Linked DNA regions of Homo sapiens. The protein of the gene in region 1 purifies or fractionates together with the protein of each later gene. This does not show direct contact. Each region holds a gene or a part of one and is shown on either strand. Other genes may lie near its edges.

The links.
Region 2: the proteins of PPP2R5E (region 1) and IPO9 fractionate together in Homo sapiens (co-fractionation; one large-scale study listed by BioGRID). This does not show direct contact.
Region 3: the proteins of PPP2R5E (region 1) and CD226 purify together in Homo sapiens (co-immunoprecipitation; one large-scale study listed by IntAct). This does not show direct contact.
Region 4: the proteins of PPP2R5E (region 1) and TPD52L2 fractionate together in Homo sapiens (co-fractionation; one large-scale study listed by BioGRID). This does not show direct contact.
Region 5: the proteins of PPP2R5E (region 1) and SGO2 purify together in Homo sapiens (co-immunoprecipitation; one study listed by IntAct). This does not show direct contact.
Region 6: the proteins of PPP2R5E (region 1) and KIF15 fractionate together in Homo sapiens (co-fractionation; one large-scale study listed by BioGRID). This does not show direct contact.
Region 7: the proteins of PPP2R5E (region 1) and API5 fractionate together in Homo sapiens (co-fractionation; one large-scale study listed by BioGRID). This does not show direct contact.

What each region holds. Positions count from the first base shown.
Region 1 is NC_000014.9:63,382,325-63,386,611, forward strand, and holds part of PPP2R5E (serine/threonine-protein phosphatase 2A 56 kDa regulatory subunit epsilon isoform), read right to left. Parts: intron 2,248-4,287; coding exon 2,120-2,247; intron 1-2,119. UniProt on the Homo sapiens protein: The B regulatory subunit might modulate substrate selectivity and catalytic activity, and might also direct the localization of the catalytic enzyme to a particular subcellular compartment.
Region 2 is NC_000001.11:201,866,374-201,870,660, forward strand, and holds part of IPO9 (importin-9), read left to right. Parts: intron 1-359; coding exon 360-586; intron 587-2,274; coding exon 2,275-2,423; intron 2,424-3,216; coding exon 3,217-3,345; intron 3,346-4,209; coding exon 4,210-4,287. UniProt on the Homo sapiens protein: Nuclear transport receptor that mediates nuclear import of proteins, such as histones, proteasome and actin. Serves as receptor for nuclear localization signals (NLS) in cargo substrates.
Region 3 is NC_000018.10:69,856,849-69,861,135, reverse strand, and holds part of CD226 (CD226 antigen isoform a precursor), read left to right. Parts: 3' UTR 1-4,287.
Region 4 is NC_000020.11:63,867,797-63,872,083, reverse strand, and holds part of TPD52L2 (tumor protein D54), read right to left. Parts: intron 2,789-4,287; coding exon 2,643-2,788; intron 1-2,642.
Region 5 is NC_000002.12:200,577,798-200,581,779, forward strand, and holds part of SGO2 (shugoshin 2), read left to right. Parts: intron 1-2,737; coding exon of another isoform or gene 2,738-2,741; exon of another isoform or gene 2,742-2,871; intron 2,872-3,982. UniProt on the Homo sapiens protein: Cooperates with PPP2CA to protect centromeric cohesin from separase-mediated cleavage in oocytes specifically during meiosis I. Has a crucial role in protecting REC8 at centromeres from cleavage by separase.
Region 6 is NC_000003.12:44,795,878-44,800,164, forward strand, and holds part of KIF15 (kinesin-like protein KIF15), read left to right. Parts: intron 1-1,673; coding exon 1,674-1,799; intron 1,800-1,956; coding exon 1,957-2,079; intron 2,080-3,317; exon of another isoform or gene 3,318-3,411; coding exon of another isoform or gene 3,412-3,414; intron 3,415-4,287. UniProt on the Homo sapiens protein: Plus-end directed kinesin-like motor enzyme involved in mitotic spindle assembly.
Region 7 is NC_000011.10:43,314,488-43,318,774, reverse strand, and holds part of API5 (apoptosis inhibitor 5), read right to left. Parts: intron 355-4,287; exon of another isoform or gene 293-354; intron 136-292; coding exon 1-135. UniProt on the Homo sapiens protein: Antiapoptotic factor that may have a role in protein assembly. Negatively regulates ACIN1. By binding to ACIN1, it suppresses ACIN1 cleavage from CASP3 and ACIN1-mediated DNA fragmentation. Also known to efficiently suppress E2F1-induced apoptosis.

The DNA.
Region 1 (4,287 bases):
TCAAGAGATTTCAAGGCAAGATAATTTTCTGAGGGGTGGTAGAACTAGAAAAAAAATCTAACTTTGCCCTTCTAATTTCTTTTTTTTTTTTTTTGCAACGGAGTTTCGCTCTTGTTGCCCAGGCTGGAGTGCAATGGCACCATCTTGGCTCACCGCAACCTCCGCCTCTTGGGTTCAAGCAATTCTCCTGCCTCAGTCTCCTGGGTAGCTGGGATTACAGAAGCGAGCCACCACACCTGGCTAATTTTGTATTTTTAGTAGAGACGAGGTTTCTCCATGTTGGTCAGGCTGGTCTCGAACTCCCAACCTCAGGTGATCTGCCTGCCTCGGCCTCCCAAAGTGCTGGGATTATAGGCGTGAGCCACCACACCTGGCCTGCCCTTCTAATTATTGGCACCCAGAATAGAGCTGCCTGTGGGCATTTGATAATTTCATTTAATAAAAAGGCAAGTATAATAGTAAAGCAATTTCACCCTAAAATAAGGATCTGTGATAGCACTAACCTTAGACATCTGAATTTGCATAGAATTCTATTTTCTAAATAACACATAATTCATCAAAATCAGAAGCTACTTCCCTAGAAACAAATGTTATATATATATGTGTATATATATAAATTATTCTTATCCAAAGAAATGAAATCAAGCCCTCATGTAGGTTGGGTGGTTCAATATGAATTATCTGTCTAGCTCTGATCTGCACCAGTCCTGCTGACCCAAAATATATGCTGATAACTGGCAAGCTGGGATGGTTGCTATTAGCTATGGGACACTATACAGCTAAACAGCCAAAATGGTAGCCCATACTTAACAAGAATTAGCTCTTGGGCAATGTGAGGACAAGGTTATGATGGGCTTGATAGCTTCAGACTAGAGTCTAAATAGCTTTTCCTTTTGCAAAAATATCCGTTGCTTCCGTTTTGCAACAAACATGCTCCTAATACCACTGAAAAATGCATTGGTAAAAATTAGCCATATATTAAATAAACCATGAGTCTGATGTTTCCAAAACATTTACAAGAAAGTACACTTGCTGTGTAGCTTCTGCCTTGTGCCATTAAAAGGAAAATTTAAGTTCTTTTCTGTTAAGGTTCCAGAATGACCTTCCTCCCAAGGGCAGTGATGGGAAAGCACCAAATGTAGTATACTGAGTAGTTACAGACACTTGCTAGAACCGTTCTCTAGGTCCTCAAGAGACTATCTGTATAAAGGGACTTAACTGTTTATCAGCTCCTTATTTTTACAAGTTCTATTAATATAATTAGGCAAATTTGAAAAATTAGAAATGTGATATTTTATAATTACATGCAAAATTTTTAAAGATAAACATATTATGAATATACTGAATTGTATCTCCCAATTTTTAAATACCACATTAAATTTTCCTTCTATTCCACAGAGAAAAATGTAAAGGCATTCAAATTCAGAATGCTTTAACTTTCATAGGGCTGGATGTTAAACTTCCCTTGATGATTTTAAACTCCTTCCTTTCCAAGAGATACATATAGCGACTGAGTTGGCTGTTAAATAGATCACACTAAAATGAAAACCTAGTCAGACCACTTCCCCACTTAACAACCCTTCAGTACTTCCTCATCATCTACTTGGTGAAGGCTCACACGAGTCCCACAGTCTTTTCTAGCCACATCCTCTAGCACCCTCCCCAAAAGACCTTGTGCCTCAGCCCTCCCAAACTCACAGGTCTCAGAAACTGACAGCTGCTTTTTACATCTTTGTGCCTTTTAACATGATGGATGGACCCACTGTCTGAAAGGGCTCTCCCCATGCCATCCACCTGCCAAATTCCTTTCAGATTCAGTCTAAGCATGGCCATGCTGTCAGTATCTACACACCTCTCCTCTCAGCTGCAGTGCCTCCCCAAAAGATCTGCTACCTTCATAGACAGATCAAGAAGCCTGTCTAGTAAACAGATACTTTAACCGGTATTTTGTTAAAGTATCTGTTTATTTTCTCCAGTCAGTGAATCCCCAGAAGGTAAGGATTTTATCTTTTCACATACGTCTTCAGCAACAAGGACAGCATCTGGCACATAATAAGGCTGAAGGGAAAGAAAGAGAGGAAGGGAGGAAGAGAACGGAGGAAAGAAACTGAAAACCTACGGATTCCAATGTTCTTTTGAAATCCTATAAAGGCTGGAAAACATGATGGGAAGGATGACGTTAGAGTTTTCTTCTATCAAACTCATGATGTATTCATTATTCCAATAATAGAGTGCTCTTTCTGCCACCTTTGGGAAAAGAAAAATAAAATGTTAAGAGAGAGAAAAAGACAAAGATAAAACAAAATTATAAATCTTTCCAAACAAAAGTATTTCAAAAGGCTATTTGTAAATCATTCAATTAGAGGTAAAATTAAATATTAATCACATTTTAATATATATATATTTTTTGAGATGGGAGTCTCGCTAGTGGCGCGATCTCGGCTCTCTGCAACCTCCGCCTCTCGGGTTCAAGCGATTCTCCTGCCTCAGCCTCCCGAGTAACTGGGATTACAGGCACATGCCACTATGCCTAGCTAATGTTTGTATTTTTAGTAGAGGCGGGGTTTCACCACATTGGCCAGGATGGTCTCGATCTCCTGACCTCGTGATCCGCCCACCTCAGCCTCCCAAAAGTGTTGGGATTACAGGCGTGAACCACCGTGCCTGGCCCACATTTTAAATGTTTGTGGATTTTTAATCTCTTGGAAAATTCCAAAGTGGGCCAGGCACGGTGGCTCACACCTGTAATCCCAGCACTTTGGGAGGCCAAGGCAGGCAGATCACTTGAGCCCAAGAGTCTGAGACCAGCCTGGGCAACATGGGGAGACCTCGCCTCTACAAAAACACAAAAATTAGCCGGGATTGGTGGCATGTGCCTATAGTCCCACCTACTTGGGAGGCTGAGGTGGGAGGACTGCTTGAGCCTGGGAGGCGGAGGTTGCAGTGAGTGGAGATCATGCCACTGAACTCCAGCTTGGGTGACAGAGCAAGACCGTGTCTTCTCCTCCCACCAAAAAAAAAGTCCAGAGTGGTTCAAGTGGTTCATCGACTCAGGGAAGGAAAAGAAGTTTTCCTGTTAATTTATATTCTTCTCTAATTCTGCCCATGTCATCTGATTCCACACTTTCCTGACATCACTTTAGCACATCTCACTGGTCCCCTTTCTTATGTTTTTCATCACACACACTTAGATCGAACCCAGGGCCCAGCATATGGTTAGCATTCAGTCACAGCTACTGAGGAACACCCACAGTTGCTCATCCCTGTAGAGCGGCCAATATTTACTAAGTACCTCCTATGGGCAGGCACTGTGCCTACACAGCAAGTAGAATGTATCATCCTTACCACCATCCCAGAAGGAGATACCATTGTGCTCATTTTACAGGTGAGGACACAGAGACTCAGGGAGACTGAGTAATGTAGGCAAGGTTACACTGACAATATGGTAAAGACTGGGGCCTCATTTCTAGGGCTTCTTCCAGAGTTTGTTTCTGGTCCCTTCCTGTGCAAGCCAGGAGATGTCTGCTCAGTTTCTGGTCTCAGGGACACTGGCTGCACCTACCCTCTCTGCTCTCTTAGATCCCTTTTCTCTGCCCACCATGCTATCAACTGGCTCTAATTTGGTCTGCTGGGCCTGATTGGCTCATCTTGGATTTCATGAATTCAAAAGAACATCTCAAAAACAAAACCTAAAATCTCTAAAAAGGGTAGTTACAGGGGAAAAGGGAAAAAGGGGTGGCTTCCTTCATTTATACAGATTAAGAAGCCCTGTTTTAGAAGAGAACAAAATGGTATAAGATGTATCTACCGAAAGACACTGAGAAAACAGAATTTTTCCATTTACATTATTCAGCTTGGTTCAAAAAACAAAACAAAACCCTGAGACTCATTAGGCACCAGACCCTGAGAGTACAAAGAAAACAATCATTACTGCATGTTCACTATATGCCAGGCACTGTGCTAAGTGTCCCACATATATAATATCTCATTTCCTCACAACCAACAGAGTTGGTACCATTACTTTTCTATTTTGTGGATGAAGAATCTGAGACTCAGAGAAGCCATTGGCTCAAGGTCACATGGCTAGTAAGTGGCAGATTCCAAAGTCTCTATTCTTAACCTCTTTACTCTGTTATCCCTAAAGAGTTCGCACACTGGTGGGAGAAGGGGCATCTACAAGCCTATCCAATGTAAACTGTGACAGATGCTATATCAGATATATGAATAAAGTGTCAGGGGAAGGAGGGGAAAAGAGCAGAATCAACAATCCAGATGACTTGGGAAACA
Region 2 (4,287 bases), on another chromosome or scaffold:
AATACAGTAAAACTATAGAGGGAACTTTAAATCCTACAGCTAATAGGCTGATTTTGAAAGTGAAACATAAAATGTTTATATAAATTAAGCTTGTTTCAGGATGCAAAAAAAAAAAACCTCAAGAAAAAAAGCAGAAGTTTTTAAAGAAAATAGCAAAAGTCAAAGAAATAAATTACAGAACATAGAAATGGTGGTGTTGATGTTTATATAATACATCCAGAAAGAAGTAGAAACTTAAACCTAACTTTAGAATTAGCTTTATAAAGCTACACATACAAATGCTATAATATGTGAGATTGATTGGGAAAACCAGGAATTGAATTTTTTTTAATAATTCTTGCTTATCTATCTCTCTCTAGTTATTGTGACCAACTGAAAGTCTCAGAGAGTACCCACGTGCTCCAGCCCTTCCTCCCCAGCATCCTTGATGGCTTAATTCACCTAGCAGCCCAGTTCAGCTCAGAGGTCCTCAACCTGGTGATGGAGACCCTGTGCATCGTTTGTACAGTAGACCCCGAATTCACAGCAAGCATGGAAAGCAAAATCTGCCCCTTCACCATCGCCATTTTCCTAAAGTACAGTAATGGTATGCTGCCAGGGAGGATGTATTATGAGGGGCACCAAAGAAAAGGTGGTGGCTGGTGAATTTAAATGAAAGATTCCCTAGGTCTGGTCTTAGCTATGAAGCTATGGTTTTAACATCGTAAGCAAAGAATCTGGCTTTCAATTAGCAAAAAATAGAATTGTGCTGTAAATGTAGCAGCATTAAAAAATAGAGTACCTATTTCTGTAACACTTACTCTCTAGTAAGGACTTAGGGATAAAGATAATAAATAAAGGGCTAATAAGCAAGAGACATAATTCAGAACTTTGATGATAGAATAGGAAATTGGGCAAATGAAAAGCCTCCTAAAAGAAAAGGGCTAGGACTATAATTTAGAAAAGGAGATACTAAAGAAAGATATATGGAAAAGTTTATAAACAAAGGTATTCACTAGATATTTTTTACAGTAGTAAAAATTTGGAAATTATAAAAAGACATTAGTTAATTATATCCATAAAATGAAATACTGTGCAGCCATTAAAAATCAAGCTTAAAAGGAATATCTGAAACCATGGGAAAGAGCTTACATTATAATAAATGAAAAGATACTTTTCCCAAAAAATCCATAGAATATGATCCCAAGTTTTGATTTTTCTTTTAGAAAAGCATGTATGTATAGATAGGTATGTTTTAAAAAAAAATACATCAAAATGTTGAGTGTTTAGGTAGTGGAATTACAGGTGTTTTCATTATTACTTTTCTGCATTTTAAGTTTTTTTTTTCCTGTAGTGAATGTATTTATTAATACCTTATTACTAGTAAAATATTAAGGATTCTTTTTTTAAAGAGAGAGCTCCAATATTGAAGCTCAGAAAGATGTACAGGATAAGGATTATTTATATAATGTGATATACTGAACATGTTATTTGATAGCTTTTTCACTGAAAAATGTGTACTGAGGAGCTTTCCACATTGTGTTCTTGGATATATCTCATTCTTTTCAGCCATTACTAATGTTCCATAAAATGGGTATATCATAATTTACCCATTCTGTTAATGGACATCTAGGGTATTCCCAATTTTTTTCTATTACAAACAATGCTGCAGTGATCTTTTAAGGTATACTTTAATGCACATTGCCTATATTTTTCCATACTAAATAGAGGAGGATGTTTTGTTCTATAGATAAAGAAGATTGAGCTAAAGTTCCCTTTCTTCATAAGGCTCTGCTTTTTAGGAGTTTTGCCTTTTGCCCCAGAAGTAGCTTTGAGAGTTCTTCATGTCTACCGTGGCTACCCCATAGGAGATATGTATGATTTCTCTCATGCATCAAAGCCAGTGTTTTGGCAATTTTTGCAGCTTTCATGTCTTCTTAAAGTATCAGTTGGGCTTTTTTTTTTTTTTTAAGCATTTGGTTTTATAACGTAGGTTTCACAAGAATAAAGACTTTAAAGATTTTTCTCTAGAAAAAGCCACATTTTGTTTTATGAGTAGCTGTTAATGACTAGTCCCTACTTTAATGAAGCCATACAAAGTGTACCTCTTGCAGATTTAGGATCTCTCCTGTTCTTTCAGGTTATTCATGTGGCCCCACTAGGTCCCGGGTATGTGATAAGTAATCAATGCAGAAGTTGTTAACTTAGGTTAGGGCCAAACAACAGGCATCATTAAGCGAGAAGCAGATGCAGACCATCAGGCAGGGGGATTCCGTGTTGCCTTATCCACTTCAGATCCCGTCGTCGCCTCACTGGCTCAGGACATCTTCAAGGAGCTGTCCCAGATTGAAGCCTGTCAGGGCCCAATGCAAATGAGGCTGATTCCCACTCTGGTCAGCATAATGCAGGCCCCAGCAGACAAGATTCCTGCAGGGCTTTGTGCGGTAAGTGGCCGTGTGTGTGTGTGTGTGTGTGTGAGAGAGATCTACAAGTGCCACCCACAGATGCATCTAGCTGACAAGAACCTAATAGCGTTAGAGATTCATGGGGTGATTTTGCTGAGCTCTTTTGCCTGCAAGGACAGTGGGTGATTCTCTGAAGCTTTAAGAAAATGGCTTGGCTTGGCGCGGTGGCTCATGCCTATAATTGCAGCACTTTGGGAGGCCGAGGTGGGTGGATCACAAGGTCAGGAGTTCGAGACCAGCCTGGCCAATGTGGTGAAACCCTATCTCTACTAAAAATACAAAAATTAGCCGGGCATGGTGGCAGGCATCTGCAGTACCAGCTACTCAAGAGGCTGAGGCAGGAGAATCACTTGAACCCAGGAGGCAGAGGTTGCAGTGAGTGGAGATCGTGCCACTGCACTCCAGCCTGGGTGACAGAGCGAGACTGCCTCAAAAAGAAAGAAAGAAAGAAAATGGCTCTTCTTGTTCCAGAGGTACCCTCAGTGAATTGAACAGAGTGCCACCTTTACACAGTGCCACTAAGTATGTCACCTGGTTATCCAATCCACTACCATGTACTACTGCCCACCCCTATGGCTAATCAATTAGTAAGCTATTATGAGAAGGCTGAGAGTACTACCCATTTAATTATTCCTTTTATTTTGGAAACTTGCCTTTCATTAATAAGCTTTCTCTGGGTTGCTATGTAATACCCATCCAGTAAGGATCTTGGTTGTTGGGCAACCCCCACCCCAGAGGCAATTCTGACTTTTCTTTTTCTTCTCTCTTTCAGACAGCCATTGATATCCTGACAACAGTAGTACGAAATACAAAGCCTCCCCTTTCCCAGCTTCTCATCTGCCAAGCTTTCCCTGCTGTGGCACAGTGTACCCTTCACACAGATGACAATGCCACCATGCAGGTATCTGAGACATGGAGAGTAGAAGAGGGAAGATAGCTCCCCAGCCATGGGCTTATACTATGCTGAGAAATCTGACATGGTTTTATGCTTTTGAAATACGGAATTCTCAACTCCATATTTACTTAGCAGATTCAGGAAGGGTTCAGTCTGCAAAAGCCAAGCATTTCTGGTGCTTTGGAGCATGTTACAGTTTTTAAAAATATGGATACCAAGCACCCTGCCCATCTGTATTGGGTATTGCTACTGTGAAAGAGGTTACAGACATCTAGACTTGGGGCCATAAGAAAGTCTTTCTGCATATTTCTTCTAGTAATAAAGTCAGCAGAGTGATGGGCCTCTAGAGAGGGGAGACATGCCTGAATATTTTTTCTCTTTTTGTTTCTTGGGTGAATTGGTTACCTTTTCAGGTGTCTGCTACTGTGATTGATTAGAAAGGTTATAGGAACTTGCCAGTGAATATTGATCAGCTTGGAAATCCCTAGGCAACTAGTGGTTTGTGTAAGACCTATATAAAGACCTACAGTATCCCCAGTTATTCCAAGATTGTAAGCATATTTTTTTAGTACCAGAGGTAGACCTTTATGATTAAAATTCATTTTGCTTGGCCATTGTCCCTTGTGATTAAAAAAATATATATACACATTTGTGAGATAGCTGATTAGGTAAAGGGGGAATTATGTAATGCACGTCTATGTCTGTAACAGTAAATGTCTTAACTCCAGTGGTATGAGCCCACCACAAACATTATAGACTCACCGCTTTTATGAGGCATAGGCCTCTGGGAACATTTGTTTATACAGACTGAGGGCCTTCTGGCATCTGTCCCTCGATTACTAATCTTGCTTGCCACCCCTGTCTCCCCAGAATGGCGGAGAGTGCTTGCGGGCCTATGTGTCAGTGACCCTGGAACAAGTAGCCCAGTGGCATGATGAGCAGGGCCAC
Region 3 (4,287 bases), on another chromosome or scaffold:
TTATCAATTTAAAAGACAAAGTAAGTAAAAATACTTTTAGTAGGCATTCGTGGATTGTGAACATCCAAGTTATATTGGTTTGTATAGAATGGCATTAAGTAAAAATTACAGCTGTATAACAGTAGTTTTCTAAATTGAGAGAGTCCACATTGTAATTAGAGATCACTGTGACCAAAATGCTTCTCCTTGATTTATAATGATGTACTGTATTTTGTACTGCTTATATGAAATTTCAGCAAGATTGACGATATTATAAAGATGCTTATAAAGTGTAAGTGGAGACGCTAAATTGTGAGTACAAAGTTTCTTTTTCACAACAGTGATAAGAAAATATCTTTAAAAAATATAAGACAATATAAACATGTCATCATTAGTTTAGCTACTATTAAAATGTAACATCTAGAAAGTACTGATCTCCACCTTCAGACTTCTGTATAAGTATATTTTTTCACTGATCTGTTCATTAGAGTTCTTCCAGCCAAGACTCTGGGCTCTTAAAACATGTATCTGAAAACTAAAAACAAGTTAATTTTTTTAAAAGCTTCTCTATTTCTAGTGATTCAATAGGTAGAAAAATAGCTTCTAGAATTAACTGCAATGCTTTCTAAGGAAATTTTATAAATCCTCAAGGTCGGTTTACACATATTTTTCCAGATTCAGAGCACTAACTATCTTGTAAGATGTAAGAAAAGGTCCATTTGGAAGTATGAGTAATAAATGTCTGGGATAATTCTGGTTTATTTCGTATTATCCTTGTTAGAATAAGTTATATGGTCAACCTGTTCAGAACACTTTTTCTAGTGTTAGTGTGTACTTTTGGATTTTTGGTTCTTGTAGGGTATAGAAATATTTTCCTTTGTCTTGTATTCTGTTGTTTTGAATGAATAAAACACAATGTTTCACGATCACTACTTTCATTTGCCATGGAGAAATAGCAGGGAAAAATTTCTACAGAATAAAATTAACTGATGAATTACATGCAGAAAAAATTCAAATCAATGATACATTGTAATTTTTATCTCAATGCAATGTTCTTTGTATTTTATTTTATTATTATTTTTTTGAGACGGAGTTTCACTTTTGTTGCCCGGGCTGGAGTGCAATGGCACAATCTCGGCTCACCACAACCTCTGCCTCCCGGATTCAAGTGATTCTCCTGCCTCAGCCTCCTGAATAGCTGGGATTACAGGCATATGCCAACATGCCTGGCTAATTTTGTATTTTTAGTGGAGACGGGGTTTCTCCACGTTGGTCAGACTTGTCTTGAACTCTGGACCTCAGGTGATCCACCTGCCTCAGCCTCCTAAATTGCTGGGATTACAGGCATGAGCGACCACTCCTGGCCTTGTTCTTTGTATTTTATAAGTGCATGTAGTGCAAAGGGTCAAAGGGCTTTACAGGTTTTTTGTTTGTTTGTTTTTGTTTTTCCCGAAACATAGTAGTCCCTTGCCCTTCCTCATTTTTGTTACCTTGAGACAACAAATTTTACTACTTCTAACTCATTATTTTATTTATGTTCACTTTTCTGAATAGCATGCTTATGACACTAATACTTTTTTTTTCAATTTTAGACATTCATTATTCATTTAGATGTCTTTCTCTCCCCAAACTCACCACATAAAATACTCTTCTCATGTCTCTTTCAGAAATATTTGTATTAAAATATGATTATATCAATATTTGGCATTTATTTCTTATGACCTTGCCAGTACTCTTAGTTAAACTACATGGTAAAAATGATTTTGCTTTCCCTCCTACATAACTTTTTTTCCACCTAGAGCTAATAATTGTCATTCTGGGGACTGACTTTTTCTGTATTTACCATAAATTGACCTGAAACTCCCCTGTGATGCAGCAGGAATTCTACCAACGTCAACTTCCTTAGAAAGACTCCATTAGAAGCTTGACTTGGGGCTAGAAGGAGAGGCACACAACTGCCATCCTGGTGTCTCCCTTCATCCAGAAAAAGGGGGAGGAATACATGAAACCTAGAATCCACTCTAAAACATTTTCCAGAACAAAAGGACATGTGTTTCCGTGTTGTAAATGTTTAACGAGTGCCCATAACAAGGAATAATAAGTCTATTATGTTTGCTTTTGTGTCTGTAAAAGTTGGGGGTATTGGTTGTAAGCACGAAAACAGATACTGACTGTTGAAGAAAAAAAAAAATACGAGGTCAGGAGTTTGAGACCAACTTGGCCAATATGGTGAAACCCTGTCTTAGTAAAAATAGAAAAATTAGCCAGGCCTGGTGGCACGCACCTGTAGTCCCAGCTACTTGGGAGGCTGAGGCAGAAGAATCGCTTGAACCCGGGAGGCAGAGGTTGCAGTGAGCCAAGATCGCACCACTGCACTCCACCCTGGGCAACAGAGCGAGACTCCGTCTCAAAAAAAAAAAAAAAAAAAAAAAAAAAAAGTTAAGTATTTGAACATAGGGGTGGCTCATAGAATTCCCAGGACACCCGATGGAGTAGGCTTGCAAAACACAACATGTGGCAACTCCAGTGGGAAACGAGGCAGGAAACACTCGTTTCCTGCAGAAAGCAACAATTTGGGCTTCGATACCCTCCCTAGAACACAGGGCAGTGAATCTGAGCAGCATCAGTACCCCACGTTCGGATGAGTCCTGAGCCCCTATTTTTATTCACTGACTTATTCCAAAATCAGTGTCTCTTAAATATATCTGGAAGGCAGCAGCTTGTATCTCCCCCTTCAGCTTCCATAGTGGCAGTCAGGGTACAACTTACTTTCCAAACAGAACACACTGCGACATTCCCTCCAGGCTCGTTGAAGAACTTCAACTGACAAATGTCCCTCCTCGACCAGATGATAGTTTTCTTAAAGGCAGGGTTTAATATACCCTTTTATAAATGTTTCAAGGCCCTGTGTAATACCTGAGTTTATTCCAGATGTAACTAAATATATCCAAGATTGTTTTAAAATAAATTGCTGAAAAAACAAATAAATACAGTTAGTATCTATATCAATATTCTCAGTTGGCAGTTTTGCAATAATGGCCGATAGTTCATTTTTAGTAACACTATTGACATTGCATTTGGATATTAGGGTTTACTAATCATCCGCATGTATACATTGCATATTTTTCTAGACTTTAACTTTATTCAAATCTATTGATTTTTAAACCTGCAACTTATGTCTAGACACAGGTATACCTTTACAAGAACTACCATTTTTTTTGGTAACATACTACCTCCAAAATTTCAAGTAAGAAGTTGATTTTTGTCCATTTTTAAATGGAAAACTTGTAATCAAAATGCCACAAAATTATACTGTGTATCATTTGACCTATAGAAACCAATATTATTACAGGAAGAAAGCAGAGCCAATCTTCTACCTGTGGTCAAATAAGTGGAGGCCCTTTCTAGACTAAGTTCTCATGAGTTTAAAATACCAAGCATAAGTTCTCCAAATTCCTGAAAAGGAAGCCTTGTGTTGTATTGCCCAGCCATATTTGTAAGACATAAAAATAAAACTTGAGAAGAAGCTATGATAACTTACTTTCTTCATTCTTCAAAATTTACATAATCTCAACTGATTTTATGTTTTTATGAAAATGCATTCTTAAGATATATCCTTATTCAATCATGTATTCATTACATCCTTTATGCCAGGTATCCAAAAGTACTTACAGTGACTAAGACCATTATTCTTTGATCAGCTGCCTGAGTAAGACTTTGAGCTCTCCAATATACTCTCAGTGATACTAAGTTTTCTGAGTAACAGCTTTGGATGTGGCTTCAGTTGAGCTGATTTATCCCACACTTTATTTTTATCGTATAATGGTCCTCAGAAGCAAATTTTGATTTTAGCTCACATAAAAAATGTACAAAGAAATGTAATGGCTCAGTAGCTTCTAGAGATAGAGATTACTCTTCTAACCTTTCTGTAATTTTGTATGTCTATTTTATAATTCTTTCAATGTCTAATGAATAGCTATCTTTTTTTGAGACGGAGTCTCGCTCTGTCGCCCAGGCTGGAGTGCAGTGGTGCGACCTCGGCTCACCGCAAGCTGCGTCTTCCAGGTTCACGCCATTCTCCTGCCTCAGCCTCCCGAGTAGCTGGGACTTCAGGCGCCCACCACCATGCCCAGCTAATTTTTTTGTATTTTTAGTAGAGACGGGGTTTCACCGTGTTAGCCAGGGTGGTCTCGATCTCCTGACCTCGTGATCCGCCCGCCTCGGCCTCCCAACGTGCTGGGATTACAGGAGTGAGCCACCGCGCCCGGCCTCCTTAGTTTCTTAAGGTGGAAGCCTAGATTATTGATT
Region 4 (4,287 bases), on another chromosome or scaffold:
TTGAACTTTCTCAGGTCTTTAAAAAAAAAAAAAAAAAAAAAGAACATGACCTCTGAAAGGGGCATCATTCAAAGCTTTACCACTTTAGAATGAGTTCTCAGTATCTTCAGCTCATATATGACTAGCTTCTCTTTAAAAATTCTCTTTCTTGGCCGGGTACGATAGCTCATGCCTGTAATCCCAGCACTTTGGGAGGCCGAGGCGGGCAGATCACCTGAGGTCAGGAGTCCGAGACCAGCCTGACCAATATGATGAAAGGCCGTCTCTACCAAAAATACAAAAATTAGCCAGGCGTGGTGGCATGCACCTGTAACCCCAGGTACTCGGGAGGCTGAGACAGGAGAATCACTTGAACCTGGGAGGCAGAGGCTGCAGTGAGCCAAGATCGCACCATTCCACTCCAGCCTGGGCAACAAGAGCAAAAAGTCTCAAAAAAAAAAAAAAACTCTTTCTTGCGTGTAATCCCAGCACTATGGGAGGCTGAGGCAGGCAGATTACCTGAGGTCTGGAGTTCGAGACCAACCTGGCCAACGTGGTGAAACTCCGTCTCTACTAAAAATACAAAAATTAGCCAGGCATGGTGCTGTGCGCCTGTAATCCCAGCTACTCGGGAGGCTGAGGCAAGAGAATCACTTCAACTCAGGAGGTGGAGGCTGCAGTGAGCCCAGATCACGCCACTGCACTCCAGCCTGGGCGACAGAGTGAGACTCCGTCCTTAAAAAAAAAAAAATTCTCTTTCTTGGCTGGGTACAGCGGCTCGCATTTGTAATCCTAGCACTTCGGGAGGCTGAGCCAGGTGGAGCTCTTGAGACTCGGAGTTCGGGACCAGCCTGGCCAACATGGTGAAACTCTGTCTCTACTAAAAATACAAAAATTAGCCAGGTGTGGTGGCAGGCGTCTGTAATCCCACCTACTTGGGAGGCTGAGGCATGAAAATCACTTGAACCAGGGAGGCAGAGGCTCCAGTGAGCTGAGATCACGCCACTGCACTCTAGCCTGGGCGACAGAGCAAGACTCTGTCTCAAGAAAAACAACAAAAAAAAGCAATACAGAACTTCACCTTGTAGGGGCCGGGCACAGTGGCTCACACCTGTAATCCCAGCACTCTGGGAGGCCAAGGTGGGTGGATCACAAGATCAGGAGTTTGAGATCAGCCTGGCCAACATGGTGAAACTCTGTCTCTACTAAAAATACGAAAATTAGATGGGCAGGGAGGCACGCGCCTGTAATCCCAGATATTCGGGAGGCTGAGGCAGGAGAATCGCTTGAACCTGGGAGGCGGAGATTGCAGCGAGCCGAGATCACACCATTGCACTCCAGCCTGGGCGACAGGGCGAGACTCTGTCTCCAAAAAAAAAAAACAAACCCCATCTCGACTAAAAACACAAAAAAATTAGCCGGGCGTGGTGGTGGGCGCCTGTAGTCCCAGCTACTCAGGAGGCTGAGGCAGGAGAATGGCGTGAACCCGGGTGTTGGAGGTTGCAGTGAGCCGAGATTGCGCCACTGCACTCCAGCCTGGGCGGCAGAGACTCCGACTCAAAAAAAAAAAAAAAAAAAAAAAAACTTCACCTTATTGTAATTCAACTCTGAAAAAAACCTTGTGGATTTAGTTTCTAAACTCACATATTCTGAAGTTAAATGGAAAGCAAAGTGTCCTTGGACTTCCTGCTACTCTCCTTTAATCTTCTAGGCTAGAAATAGCTGTGTGATGTCCTCAGGATCTGAAACCTGGTCCTCAGACTCAGCGGCACAACCAACCTTACTCAGACCTAGGCCTGGACCCAGATTCTGGAATTAAACCACATCACAGGGTGAAAAGAAAACTCTTGGCAGTTGGTTTGACTAAAAATTATGGTTGGAGGCTTTTGTTCTTAATTCCTACATTACTCTTAAGGGACTCTCACTTAAAGAAGATCACATAAATACTTTTTAGAAAAGAAGTTTTTGTTTTGTTTTTGAGACAGGGTCTCGCCCTGTCACCCAGGCTGCTGTGCAGGATGCAATCACAGCTCACTGAAGCCTTGACCTCCTGGCCTCAAGCAATCCTCTCACCTCAGCCTCCTGAGTAGCTGGGACTACAGGCACATGCCACCACACCTGGCTAATTTTTGGGGGTAGAGACAAGGTCTCACTGTGTTGCCCAGGCTGCTCTCAAACTCCTGGGCTCAAGTGATCTTCCCACCTTACCACCCTGTCCTCCTAAGGCGCTGGAATTACAGGCATGAGCCACTGCATCCAGCCAAAATAAATATGTTTAAAAGAAAACTTAAGATCCAGGACAAGAAAGATTCATGGGGTCTTAAAAATGATTATCAAGTGTTAATTCCAACAGAGACACTCCCAGCAGATGGCTGCTCAGAGGCGGTTCATGTGTGAACACTCCTCAGGGAGCACTTAGGAAGGGCCAGGCACAGAGGTATGGGAAGGGAGTCATGCCCTGTCTCCACTGCCAGGTGGCTCTGAGTCCAGTGCATGGAGCTGGGCACATACAAAGAGAACCCCGTTATCAGTCGGAACACAGAGCAGGGTAGGTGACCACCCAGGGCAATTCCTCCCGAGCGTGGCCAGTACCCTGGCCTCTCACTAATCCAAGAGGGCCTTAACTCCAATTCACCCCAGGACAGACAGCCAAGCCACAGCACCTTGGTAAGCTCAGCCCTGAGCTCCTCCTCCTCAGCCTCTGTCAGACCCTCAACAGCAGGAGTCCGGGCAGCCACACCTGTGTCGACAGGAACATCCGTCATGGAGTCAGACAGCAGACCTTTGTTAGGAGAATTCAGGTTGATATCTGCCAGAGACAAAATGAGGCCACAAAGTGTCAAATAAGTTAGTTCCAAGTAAATACGGTAGAGGTCTCTAGCAGGACAAAAGCACAGGTGGGAGTGGGTGAGACCCTGGAGACTAACACCTCTTCTCTGAAAGGTCTGTGAGGACAGCATGGGCAGTAGACGAGGGCAGCCACACCTCAGACCACCTGAGCTGAAAAGCCAATGCCACTTGTGCTGCTTCAGGGCACGACAAATGCCGGCCCAAGGCAGGCAAACCCGAATTCTGGCTTCCCAGTGAGAATACTATCGTCAGAGGCAGGAAACCCTTGCTACAGAGAAAGCAGCTCAATCTAACAGACCTTCCACCTTTTTTTTTTGATGGAGTCTCACTCTGCCTCCCAAGCTGGAGTGCAATGGTGCGATCTCAGCTCACTGCAACCTCCGTCTCCCGGGTTCAAGTGATTCTCCTGTCTCAGCCTTCGAGTAGCTGGGATTACAGGCGCACGCCACCACGCTGGCTATTTTTGTATTTTCAGTAGAGACGGGGTTTCGTCATGTCGGCCAGGCTGGTCTCCAATTCCCGACCTCGGGTGATCCGCCCGCCTTGGCCTCCCAAAGTGTTGGGATTACAGGTGTGAGCCACCATACCCTGACAAATTTCCACTTTTTTTAAAAAAAGGAACCTAATATGGTTAATATACACAATAAGCATCACTTTCCTCTCAACACATCTGACAGAGCACATGCTAAAATTACGTACTAGGAGCACATGCTGCTCATTCAGCTCCTTCAGGGAGGCAGCAAAACAAAATTCCCTTTACTTACCTCCCGATTCTCATCCCACTGCCAGAAGGCCGCCAGCAGGCAGAGAGGTGCAGAGCGGTGTGCTGCCACCACACACCTCAACTACACCCAGATCACATTCAAATTCCTGCAGCCACTGTTTTTTCTTCATGTCAAATGCATCTTCCTGACTACCCTAAAAGTCTACAAGATTTCACATAAAGAAAAACAGTCTATTTCGATTCTCTCCAAATCCAAGCACATGACTATTGTAACACTTTCCCTGTTGACCAAAACATTCTGAAAAGAAACAGGCTTACTGCCAGGCGCAGTGGCTCATGCCTATAATCCCAGCACTTTTGGAGGCCGAGGCAGGTGGATCACATGAGGTCAGGAGTTCGAGACCAGCTTGACCAAAATGGTGAAACCCCGTCTCTACTAAAAATACAAAATTAGTTAGCGTGGTGGCACGCGCCTGTAGTTCCCAGCTACTTGGGAGGCTGAGGCAGGAGAATCACTTGAACCCGGGAGATTACAGGCGTTGAGCCACCACGCGCGGCCAAAAAAAAATTCTTTAAAAAAAAAAAGAAAAACTGGTCGGGCGGGGTGGCTCATGCCGGTAATCCCAGCACTTTGGGAGGCTGAGGCGGGCGGATCACCTGAGGTCAGGAGTTCAAGACCAGCCTGGCCAATATGGTGAAACCCCGTCTCTTTTTTTTGAGACTGTCTCAAAAAA
Region 5 (3,982 bases), on another chromosome or scaffold:
TTGGCAAATATTTCACAGAAATTATATGTCCTTCTTGCCTCATTTCAAGGCTTCATCATGTCAGTGTGTTTCATTACTAGTCATGTTAGCCTTGATTCCTTGGTTAAGGTGGTGTCTGTTGGGTTTTTTAACTGTGAAGTCACAATCTTTTCCTCTATTGTTAATGAACATGGGAGGGAGATACTTTGAGTCTATATATTCCATTTCTCAAACTTTCACCCACTAATTTTAGCATCCATTGGTGGATCTTGCCTGCAACAGTACTACTGTGGGTACTACTAGTAGTGATTTTTGATTTCTCCCTTTCCTTCTACATTAATTGGAATTCATCTGTAAGGAAGAGTTGTCTTTTCTATAGATATAGATATAGATATAGATATAGATATATATCGTGGGTATCTCTTTTGTTCTATAGATGAAAGTCCAATGCCATCAATATTTATCTTGTTGCTCAAGTTATTCCAACTTTGACCACTAAGAGTTCCTTCAGGTTGGCTTCCGTGTCCTTTTGACATGACTTCATACTATTTGGAGCACTTTCTTACTTTCTGACACACAGGATGTTCCAGTATGTCATAGTGGCTTAATCCTAGTGGCTTAAGTAGCAATCTGGATGCAGCTTAATTAGGTGCTCTGCTTAGGGTCTGACAAAGCTGCACTAAAGGTGTCGTCCAGGCTGGTTCTCATCTGGAGGCTGTGCTGGGGAAGAATCTGCTTCCAAGTCACACAGGTTGTTGGCAGAATTCATTTCCTTGTGGTTCTGGACAGAGGGCTTCATCTTCTTCTTGTTGACTAGAGGCTGTCCTTAGCTTCTTGCCACACGGCCTCCTTTACAGCATGGCCACTTACTTCAAAGCCAGCTGTGGAGAATCTCTAGAGCAAGTCCTGTAGCAGGATAGAGTCTTATATAACAAAATGTCATCTCGGAAGTGAGACATCTCATCACCTTTGCCAGTGGTCTCCTTGTTTATTGTAGAGGATCTATAGTATGTTTTAATGTCTGGTAGGGCTAGTATCCTCTCATGGTTTTTCTTTTTCATTGTTTCCCTCACTGTTCTTGAATGTTTGTTGTTACAAATGAATCTTAGGATGGTATTGACTTGTCTGGCTCGGTTTCATAACCTTGGCACTGTTGACCTTTGGGGCTAGGTATTTCTCTTTTATGGGAGGCTGTCCTGTGTATTGTAGGATGTTTAGCTGTATCCCTGACCTCCATCCACTAGATGTCAGTAGCACCCTCACATTTATAACAACCAAAAATGTCTCCATATGTTGCAAAATTTCAACTGGGAGGCAAAAGCATCCTGAGTTGAAAACCACTGGTCTATAAGTATTTAGTTTTCTTTGTTGCTATTATATATGGACATGTAACTGATGCCCAATGTTGTTCGTATATATGAAAGCTGTTGAATTCTGTGTCAGTTTATATCTTGTTACTTTCTGAACTCTGTTATTCTCTTATCTCACTGATTGTCTTGAGTTCTCCAGGTATAGTATGATATCATCTGAAAATAGAGATAGTTTTACTTCATTACCCTGTTTGTATGCCTCTTACTGTTTTTATATTAGCATTGGCTAATAACTCAGGTACAATGTTAAAATAGTAGCAGGAATAGTAGGCATGCTTGCCTTGTTCCTGATTTTAGTAGAAATGCTTCTGTTGAAGTATTTTTGTCTCTCCATTAAACAAGATACTTGCTGTAGGATTAAGATATGTACATAATTTACTAAGAAAATGCCCCTTGATGCCTATTGAGTGTTTTTATCATGAATGATTGTTGAATTTTGTCAAAGGCTTGTTCAGCATTTATGAAGATAGTAATATACTTCATTTACTTACATGTATTAACATGGCATCTGTTGATGAGTTTTCCAGTACCGAACTAACCTTGCTTTCCTGGAATAAATCTCACTTGATCACGGAGTATGTTTTTCATAATGTGATGTTGAATTGAGTTTGCCAAAATATTTTGTTTAGAATTTTTATATCAACATTCATAACTGATGTGAGTCTATAGTTACCCACCTTTGAATTGTCTTTATCTGGCCTAGGTATCATATTAAGGGAATCAAGAAAGTCACCATCTTGGTTCCTTTAATGAAATAATTTATATTTCATTATAATTTATAGTGCATTATAATTTATGTTTATAATTATTTGTATGTTATATACTTATATAATTTTAGAACAGTGGGACTCTCTGGTTTTTGTAAGTTTGTTAGCATCCCCCTCTGAAACCATCTGGACCTAGTACTGTTTTGTGTGGGATAGTTCCTTAATAACGTTGACTGTTTTTTGTGTGTATGAAAATTAGTCTGTTTAAGCTTTTTTGCTGTAATGGGGTCAATTTTTGTTATTTGTATTTCCACAGGAAATTATCCATTTCATCTAAGATTTCAAATTTATTTGCATAAAAGTCTGCAAAGTATCTTTTATGAATTAGACATGTAAATTAATTTTAAATCTTTTTTCCCATAATTATTTTACCTATATCATTTATTATTTTTTGTGTTTGTTCTTTTTCTCTTTTTCTTGATCAAATTAGGTAGTAGTTTATTTATTAACTTTTCCAAAAAATCAGTACTTTGATTTACTAATTGGATCTATTTTTCTGTTCTCTACTTCACTGACTTCTGCTTCATATTTATTATTTCCTTCTTTGTGTTTTCTTTGATTTACTTTATTATTGTTGTTTTCCCATTAAAATTTATTGTTTTTATTCTTTCATTTATATAGATAACAGTGTTTTATGGACAGGCACAGTGGCTCACACCTGTAATCCCAATACTTTGGGTGGCTGAGGTGAGAGGATCACTTGAGCCCAAGAGTCGGAGACCAGCCTGGGCAACACAGGGAGACGCTCACTCTACAAAAAATTTAAAAATCAGCCAGGCACATTGGCATGTGCTTGTAGTCCCAGCTGCTACTAGAGAGGCTGAGGTGGGAGGATAGTTTGGGCCTGGTAGGTCAAGGCTGCAGTGAGCCATGATTGTGCCACTGCACAGAGAAAGATCCTGACTCAAAAAATTAAAAATAAAAATAAGTAAATAGAACACACACAAAAAAATTTTTTTTTAAAGTGTCTTTTGCAATCAATTTTTCTCTGATCAGTGCTTTCAATGTATCTTGATTCTGATACATAGTGTTTTCAATGTCGTTTTTAAGTTTCTCCTTTTCTTTAGGAGTTATTAGGAGGTTTTAAAAATTCCAGGTAGATGAACCTTTCTGGTTTTTTGTTTTTATTTGTAAATCTAGTTTTATTGCATTTTGGTCAGAAATTATTTATTGTAATATTTCTGCTTTATGGAAATTGCCAGTATTTTCTTTGTGACCTACTATAGGATCAGCATTTATAACTGTGCTGTGATTGCTTAGATGTATATTCTCCATAATCAAGGTCTAAAGTTTGATATATATCCATGAGATTTACTGTATTTATTATGTTGCTTAGATCTTCTGTTTCTTATTTTTTGTAAATAAGTGATCTGTTTTGTACTAAGGTTATACTAAGAGTTGTATATTAAAATCTACTGTGTCCTGTGTTTCCATGTATCTCCTGTAGTTTTTGCTTCAGAAGGGTGGTTGCTCTGCTTTTTGCTATGTAAATATCATGATTATTACTTATTCATTTTGGATTATGGCCTTTATTATATTAAAAATGTCCTCATTTGTCATGTTCAGTGCTCTGGACTAAAGACTTAAAGTCTTTAAGATATAAAGACTTTAAAAACATATTTATGAGACCTTCCTGATAACTCCTACCACTCCTATCTTCAATACCTATGATGATCATTCCATAATAGCAAGCAGCTTTAATTAGGATGTACTTTCATGGGAGCTACTAGAAGCTGTGATATACCTAGTGTATACCATTTCCAATCCAAAAAGAAGGAAGAAAAAAAAGTGGCAACTGGATGGTCATCACTCGGAATTTATACTGAATGTTGTGGCTTTTGCTTTTAAAAATTTTACCAACTAAGC
Region 6 (4,287 bases), on another chromosome or scaffold:
GTTTTGAGACAGTCTCACTCTGTCACCCAGCTGGAGTGCAGTGGCATGATCTCGGCTTACTGCAACCTCTGCCTCTCTGGTTCAAGCAGTTCTTCTGCCTCAGCCTCCCAAGTAGCTGAGATTACAGGCGCCCACCACCACACCCAGCTAATATTTTGTATTTTTAATAGAGATGGGGTTTCACCATTTTGGCCAGGCTGGTCTTGAACTCCTGACCTCAGGTGATCCACCCTCCTTGGCCTCCCAAAGTGTTGGGATTACAGGCGTTAGCCACCACGCCCAGCCTAAAGCTCATATTTCTATTGAGATATGAGGCTTAATAAATATAGCATATGGGTTGAGCATGGTGGCTTATGCCTGTAATCCTAGCACCTGGGAGGCTGAGGTGGGAGGATCCCTCGAACCCAGGAGGTCGAGATTGCAGTGAGCTGTGATTGTGCCACTGTGCTCCAACCTGGGTGACAGAGTGAGACTCTGTGTCAAAAAAAGCATATGCTTATAATAGGACATATACCAAGTCTGTTCTAAAATGCTTTACATATATTAATTCATTTAACCTTCCCAACAACTCTGGGAAGTAGGTGCTATTCTTTCTATTTTACAGTTAAAGAAACCGAAGTCACACAGCTAATAAAGGTAGAGCTGAGATTCAAACCGAGCTGCTACAGTACTCTCAACCATGCCACTAACCACCTTTCTGATTTACTGAATGATAACAGCAGTGACTCTGAATTCAGTACATCTTGCATTATAATTTTGACTTTTTCTCTTTTTTGTATACTCCTTCCACTGCAGACCCAGTTTTCAAAATATGCTACCTACAGTAAAAATCTAATGTAACGTATTTAGCTCATTTTTTCCCCCCACCAAGCTTCTGTTTTAAAGTAGTTTTTATTATCCTTTACAGAATTAAACTGAATATTCTCCTCAAATAAGTTCATCAGTGGCTTTGGGGGCTGTATGGGTGAGTTATTAGGCATTATACCCTTAAATATTTTAGCATAAAAGGATTGAAAAAAGTACCTATTAATGCACTACTCTAGCTTTTTTTTCCCTATTTTTTTCTGGTCTTTATAGCTCGGTTTCAAACTATTACAATCATGAAGTGACATTAATATTTTTTTTCTTTGCATGATTTTTGTGTTTGTCTTTTTTTGTTGTTGTTTTTGAGAGAGGGTCTCACTCTGTCACCCAGGTTGTAGTGCAATGGCACAATCTCAGCTCACTGCAACCTCCACCTCCCAAGCTCAAGTGATCCTCCCACCTCAGCCTCCCAAGTAGCTGGGACTACAGGCATGTGCCACCATGCCCAGCAGTTTTTTGTATTTCTTTGTAGAGATGGGGTTTTGCCATGTTGCCCAGGCTGGTATCCAACTCCTGAGCTCAAGCAACCTGCCCACCTCGGCCTCCCAAAGTGCTGGGATGACTAGCATGAGCCACAGTGCCAGCCTGTGTTTGTCTTCTAATACTAAAATTACAGTGTACATCAAATAGGAAAAGGTTAGGGATAGTTCAGCACTTCTTTTTTATTTGTTGAATAGTTGTTCTTTATTAACATTGTCCCTGACTTGCCTTTTCATCCAGAATTTTCCTCTGCTAGATATATTTTCATTCAAAATACCAAAGAGTAACCAACGTACCTAAATTTTTGTTCTTTTCCGTCAACACTTTAGGAAGCAGGTAACATAAATCGATCATTGAGCTGCCTGGGCCAAGTGATTACAGCACTTGTCGACGTGGGTAATGGAAAACAGAGACATGTTTGCTACAGAGACTCCAAACTTACCTTCTTACTACGGGTAAAGTAGATCCTTGGGTTCCTGGGCTCCTTTTGGTTATGCTAAAGTTGATAGTGGGACAGTCTCTCAGCCTTGGTGGCAAGAGTATACATTTTCTTTGCTTAAAAAGGTCTTGTGATTTCTCACCGAAAATATGTTCATTCCTATCATTAAACAGGATTCCCTTGGAGGTAATGCCAAAACAGCCATAATTGCAAATGTTCATCCTGGATCCAGGTGTTTTGGGGAAACCCTATCAACACTTAACTTTGCTCAAAGAGCCAAGCTGATTAAAAACAAGGTAAAATACTGGCGTATACTTCATTAAATAAATGAGAAAAATACTAAAGCTTACAGTATGCCATTTTTGTGATTGCCCTAATATTAACATTAACTTTTATTTATTTCTCATTGTATGCAAAATTTCTATTTTATCTTTCCTACCCTTCTATATCACACATGTAATTAGAGACCTAGGTTAGATCTTATGGTTGTTATTGCTTGACTAGTTTTTTCTTTTTTTTTGAGACACAGTCTTGCTGTGTCACCCAGGCTGGAGTGCAGTGGTGCAAACACAGCTCACTCTAGCCTCAACTTCCTGGGCTCAAGCGATCCTCCTGCCTCAGCCTCCTGTGTAGCTGGAACTACAGGCATGCAGCACCATGCCAGGCTAATTTTTTTATTTTTTTAATTTTTATTTTATTTATTTTTTATTTATTTATTTTTTTGAGACAGAGTCTTGCTCTGTCACCCAGGCTAGAGTGCAGTGGTGCGATCTCTGCTCAGCTGGGACTACAGGCGCCCACCACCACGCCCGGCTAATTTTTTGTATTTTTTAGTAGAGACGGGATTTCACCGTGTTAGCCAGGATGATCTCGATCTCCTGACCTCGTGATCCGTCTGCCTTGGCCTTAATTTTTTTATTTTTTGTACAGGTAGGATCTCACTTTGTTGCCCAGGCTCGTCTCAAACTCCTAGGTTCAAGCAGTCCTCCTGCCTCATCCTTTCAAAGTGCTGGGATTACAGGTGTGAACCACTGTACCCAGCTGACAAATTTTTTCTTAAGGGAAAGCAAATTAAGTATGTGAGTCTTTCTTCCTGCCAACAGCCAATCAATCAGTTCTGCAGCAGACATCAGCTGAGTGTCTTCTGATTCAGTTCCATCCTGACACTTTATGTCTGGAGATAGGGTGAGATCTCACAGGTTCAGGGCTCAGTCCTACAAGACTGCGCCCAACTTCTGATGCCAATTGCAAGCCCCAGCTTGTCCTATCTGTGCTTTCAGACCAACTGGCTGTAAATCAGGAGGTCCATGTTGCCCCTTTCCCTGGGTAAATCAGAAGACTATAGATCTAGTCATTTATTTTATTTCCTTGGACTATGGAGTACTAGTAAGATGAGGAGGAAAAATCATTAGAGCTTCCTGACCCTAAGTCTCTTAAGATTTACTAGAAGTCTTTGGAGATATAGAACTGCAGCAATAATTAGAATTATGAAGTCACTGATGGGACAGTGATGTCAGAAGTGCAGTAGTACCTTGTAATGAGGCTGGCCATAAGAATCAGAAGCAACTGGAAATGGCTGCTTAACACACAAAAGAACAAAACCAAGAGCCTTCTACTAGTCACTCTCAATGGTAAGCCCTTTGCAGCCTATCAGTGGAAAGTGCCAGAGTATCTGGGACTTGTTTAAGGATGTGCTATTTAAATTTTTCCGTGAGCAAATTGGGCTTACAGCGAGAATACAGAAGACCTTGGGGCTGTCACAGGGTGTTTTTTCCTTGCTGGAGTACTGAGTATTTCACAACTGAGTCCTCTGACCTGGTTGGTACTCAGCTGTTGGCACTCGTTATCACCCTTTAGGCTTTGTGGACCTTTTTAAAGCTTTATTTTTTTAATTAATCAACTTTTTTTTTTTTTTTGAGATAGAGTCTCGCTCTGTCAACAGGCTGGAGTGCAGTGGCGCACATGTGTGACCTGCCCCACTCTTGACATCCTGCCCCACAGTGGCACATTTTGTTTGTGAGTCCTTTAGCCTTTTAGAAGTTGTCCTAAATAAGACATTTCTTTAAGAAAATGAAGATAATCATTTAGTGTGGTAAAAAATTAAAAAAAAAAAAAAAAAGGAAGTGTCAAACCAACCCCTCCTTCCAAGAGGGCTGTTAAAAAATAAAGGTCGGATTCCTCTGGAGAAGGTTGCTTCTGCCAAGCTCAAGCCCACCCTGCAAGTCATCATGCACTTAGAGGCTAGGCTCCTTCCCCGTAGGGAGCTAGGAAAGAAGGGAAATGATACTCACTGAGGTATTGGCTCTTCTCCATTGGGAGGGTGGGGGAAGGCTGTCGTTCTCAGGGAAAGAAGTATTAGGTGAACACACCCGGATCCTAAGGGTGACCCAGCCTAAAAGCTCAGGGCTAGTCAGCTGGGGGGCAGAGAGCCTGGCTGGGGCTGTCTCTCTCTGGCTCCAGGTCTGAAGGCACAAGAAAAGGAAGCTTCCTCCCCACTTGAGCAC
Region 7 (4,287 bases), on another chromosome or scaffold:
TAACTGTGCATTGATAGCAGAATCAGCCAATTCTGGAAAATGCTTAAAGAATTTCGGAATAAATTGAGCTGCTAATCGCTTTTCCTTAGTACCACCTTTCACACCATCCAATATCACTTGATAGGCATCTTTATGCTGAAATAAAAAATAAAGCAGGAAAGACACATGATTTTGAAGGATGGGAAGCAAAGTAAAAGACCATAACAAACATGTTAGAGTGTGCTTTAAATTTTTACACAGGCTAAGAAATAAAGCTGATTTTGGGAGGTTTACTGCTCAAACTGACACTTACCTTCCCAATTCCGTTCTCCCTCCATCTTTGTTTCATTTTTGAGTTGGGGGAGATGGATGAGTCTAATTTTAAGTGGAAAAAGCAAATGTGTTTGTTAATATGCCAATACTTCTTCATTCTAGTGATTATTAACTCTGGCCATGTGACTGTATCATGCTTAAAAAATTTGTAATGGGCCAGGCGTGGTGGCTCACGCCTGTAATCCCAGCACCTTGGGAGGCCAAGGTGGGTGGATCACCTGAGGTCAGGAGTTCAAGACTAGCTTGGCCAACATGGTTAAACCCCGTCTCTACTAAAACACAAAAATTAGCCAGGCGTGGTGGTGTGCGCCTGTAATCCCGGCTACTCGGGAGGCTGAGGCAGGAGAATTGCTTGAGTCCGGGAAGCGGAGGTTGCAGTGAGCTGAGATCGTACTACTGCACTCCAGCCTGGATGACAGAGTGAGACTCTGTCTCCAAAAAACAAAACAAAACAAAACAAACAAACAAACAAAACAATTGTAATGATGGCCAGGTGTGGTGGCTCATGCCTGTAATCTCAACACTTTGGGAGGCCGAGGTGGGCAATCACTTGAGCTCAGGAGTTCCAGACCAGCCTGCCCAACATGGTGAAACTCCCTCTCTCTAAAAATACAAAAATTAACTGGGTGTGGTGGCAGACATTTGTAATCCCAGCTCCTCAGGAGGCTGAGGCAGGAGAATCGCTTGAACCCAGGAGGCAGAGGTTGCACTGAGCTGAGATCGCACCACTGCATTCCAGATTGGGTGACAGAATGAGACTCTATCTTAAACAAGTAAATAAATAAATCATCATGAATACCATAGAATTCACAAAGAATTGCACTGTATTTACTTAAACAAAAATTTACCTGTTTCTAATTAGCACCTTGAAGAAGGTGAAGGGAATACATTCCAGAAATTTAGCAATTCCAGCAATGTTAGGAAGTGCAGTTTAATTTTACCTCATAGCAGTATATGAAAGCCATGACAATTCACTCCATATAGCCAGACAATTTTGGATTAAGACGGACTCTAATGTCACATGTTTAAACCTTTTATTGGAACAATACACTCAAAGCTCATGTTTCCTTAAAAAAAAAAATCACAGGTGCTCTCCCTCAAATACTCATAATGGGAGGAATCAATAAGTTCCCAATCCTCCTTAAGTACTTGCCTCCAAACCAGTCCTTTTATGAAATGACACTGATAAAGATGGTAAATAACAGTAACAAATACAGAAAGACTACACATATATATTGTTTGGACATATGAATAAAACTTAGTAACTGGAAAAACAACTTAAAAATTATAATCTTGACCAAACATATACACAGTATAGTATTTATTATGTATAAGGAGTGTTCTAAGTGCTTTAGACACATGAGCTTACTTCATGCCATCAAGCGGGGAATGACCAATAAATATCCAATGAACTACAGAATTACCAAATTTATTTTACAGTGATTCTTTTTTGTTGATAATGCTATGTTAAGTGAAAAAATAAAGCAGGATGCAAAGTTACAGAACAACTCCCAAATAACAGAAATTTCTGTGAATAAGGTTAACTTCTTCATGAAATGCAGATATATGAGTCTTCAGGAGTCATCACTGAAAAGTGTATTATAAACACATCAAGACCCTGTCTCTCCAAAAAATATAAAATTAACCAGGCATGGTGGTGTGTGCTTGCAGTCCCAGCTACTGGAGAGGCTGAGGGAGGAGAATCACTTGAGCCCAGGCGATAAAGGCTGTGGTAAGCCATGGTCGCGCCCAGGAGTTAGAGGCTGTGGTAAGCTGTGGTCGCGCCACTGCACTCCAGCCTGACAGAGCAAGACCCTGTCTCAAAGAAAGAAAGGTATATGACATACTTTTCACCGCAAACATTAAAAAAAGAAATCATGCTGACTTCTCTACCACTTTACATTCCTGTGGTTTGCCTCAGACTTCTAGGCAGGCTTCATAAAATCAAAGTTTGTTCTGACACCCTTACTTTTTGCAGGGTATCACAAATCTAATTTTCTTTAACTCAAACTTACTCATAAAGCCATTTGAAGAAACTCCTTACACTGTCCAAAATTAAATGAAAAAAAAAAAACCCTGCTTAAAACAAAACTTCCTTTTGCCAAGAAAAAAATATTAAATCTGGAATCAAATAAAAAGGAATCATTAACAATATTTATTGAAGGTCTACCAGGGACTGAGTGATTCCTTGTCTATATCACAATAGGTGTTACTACTATTCTTATCTTTTAGATGAGGAAACTAGGGCTCAGAGAAGTGAAATAAATATTTCCACATATTTTTGAGGGATTACGAACTTGGTTGGTCAGTGGTTTTAGCTTAATCATACAAAAAACCCTACTACAAGAGTGGTTATTTCATGAAATAAAAGTCCAAGAAGCCTACACGCCAACCCTGCAAAGCTAGTATACTCAATGATTGAGAGAACAGGAGGAATCAGGGTTTCAGCATTATACAGATCTAATCAGCCCCACTGCCATGGTCCTTTAACAGGTGTCGGATACATTTTTTAACTTTTAAGATTTTGACTACATAATATAAAATTAAGTATCTATATTTAAAGTAAGTAAATTCATAATAATTTGAAACAGAATTTTAAATAATGGTGGGCCACAGCTTGCTCTATTATGGCTAGTCAGGAGCCCTGGGCAGAGTACAGTGGAAAAGGAGATCAGAAAGGTAAAGGAGCACACAAGAGAAGAGTGAGACCTGAAGGAGTAGCAGAGGCAGAGTGGGGGAAAGGCAGGATGAACGCATAGGCAGAACATGGCAGTTACATGAGAAGATGATAGGACTGGAAGATTTGAGGTATTAAATAATTCTGCACTTAGAATTTGTCATCTGCAGTTTGCTTATTAGAATATACATGCTCATATATGTATGTATGTGTGTGTGTATGATAAAGTTCCCTTTATCCATTAGAGATAATCTGTGTAAATGGTTTTTCTTTTCTTTTGTAAATGGTTTCTCTGTTCCTTCTTCCAATACATTTCTTCAACTATGAAAAAGAAATGCTTACTGAAGGGCAAGGTACAGTGCAAGAAGAGAAGCAATAAATAAATAAATAAATAAATACATAAAAGGATTTAACCCTTGAGACGTTATAATTTAAGTACAGAAATAAATAAAATAAAATACAAGTCTGAAGCATTATTAGTAAGTACATCGTACCAAGGGGTTCAAAAAGAGGATTTGATCTGCTTTGGGGAAATTAGCCGATAAAACCTCAGACGGCTTGTAAGTTTACCCTTATATATTTAGAAGGCACTACTCTGAAAGGAGTATTGACAATAATGGGGAGGGAATAGTCTGTAGTGGCAGCAATCAGAACACCTGTAGTGCTCACCTCTCTGGTAAAGGTTGATAATCAAAGTAAAAGTTAGAAGGAAGTCAAGACTGACAAACTTGAATGCAGTCTCAGAAGTATCCAGACAGGTATTTGCCAGGAAACTTAGTACTGATCATAAATCTCTCATAAGTTGACATGAAAATCAGGCTTTGCTACATCAAGAACATGAACACGGTTTTCTCTCCTTAAAAACAAGTGAAATGGTGTCCTCTCTACTAAGGTGGCTTTTGCCTTTGTTAGTTAAAATTACAAGCAATATCCTAAAACCTACTGTCTTTTTTAGTAAGTGATTTTAGGCATTTTATCTAAAAGGGGAGAAGTATAACCCAACAGAGCAGAATTAGTAGGCATTATCTTCGGTTTTCCTACAATTCACAATATTTGAGCTGCCTGAGCTAACCACTACATCTCATTATGCAGAGATACTGTTTAAATAGTTGCTTGACAGTTGTCAATACAGAACGCATTGATCACCCATAACCTACAGAGAATTGTGTTAAATTTCAGTGTCCAGCCGGGTGTGTGGTACATGGTAGGTGAAATGTACGGAATAAAGCATGGAGTCCTCATTAAAGTGTAGACAAAGGTATCCTTTTTCATTTTTCACAAACTTGTCTCTAAAGTAC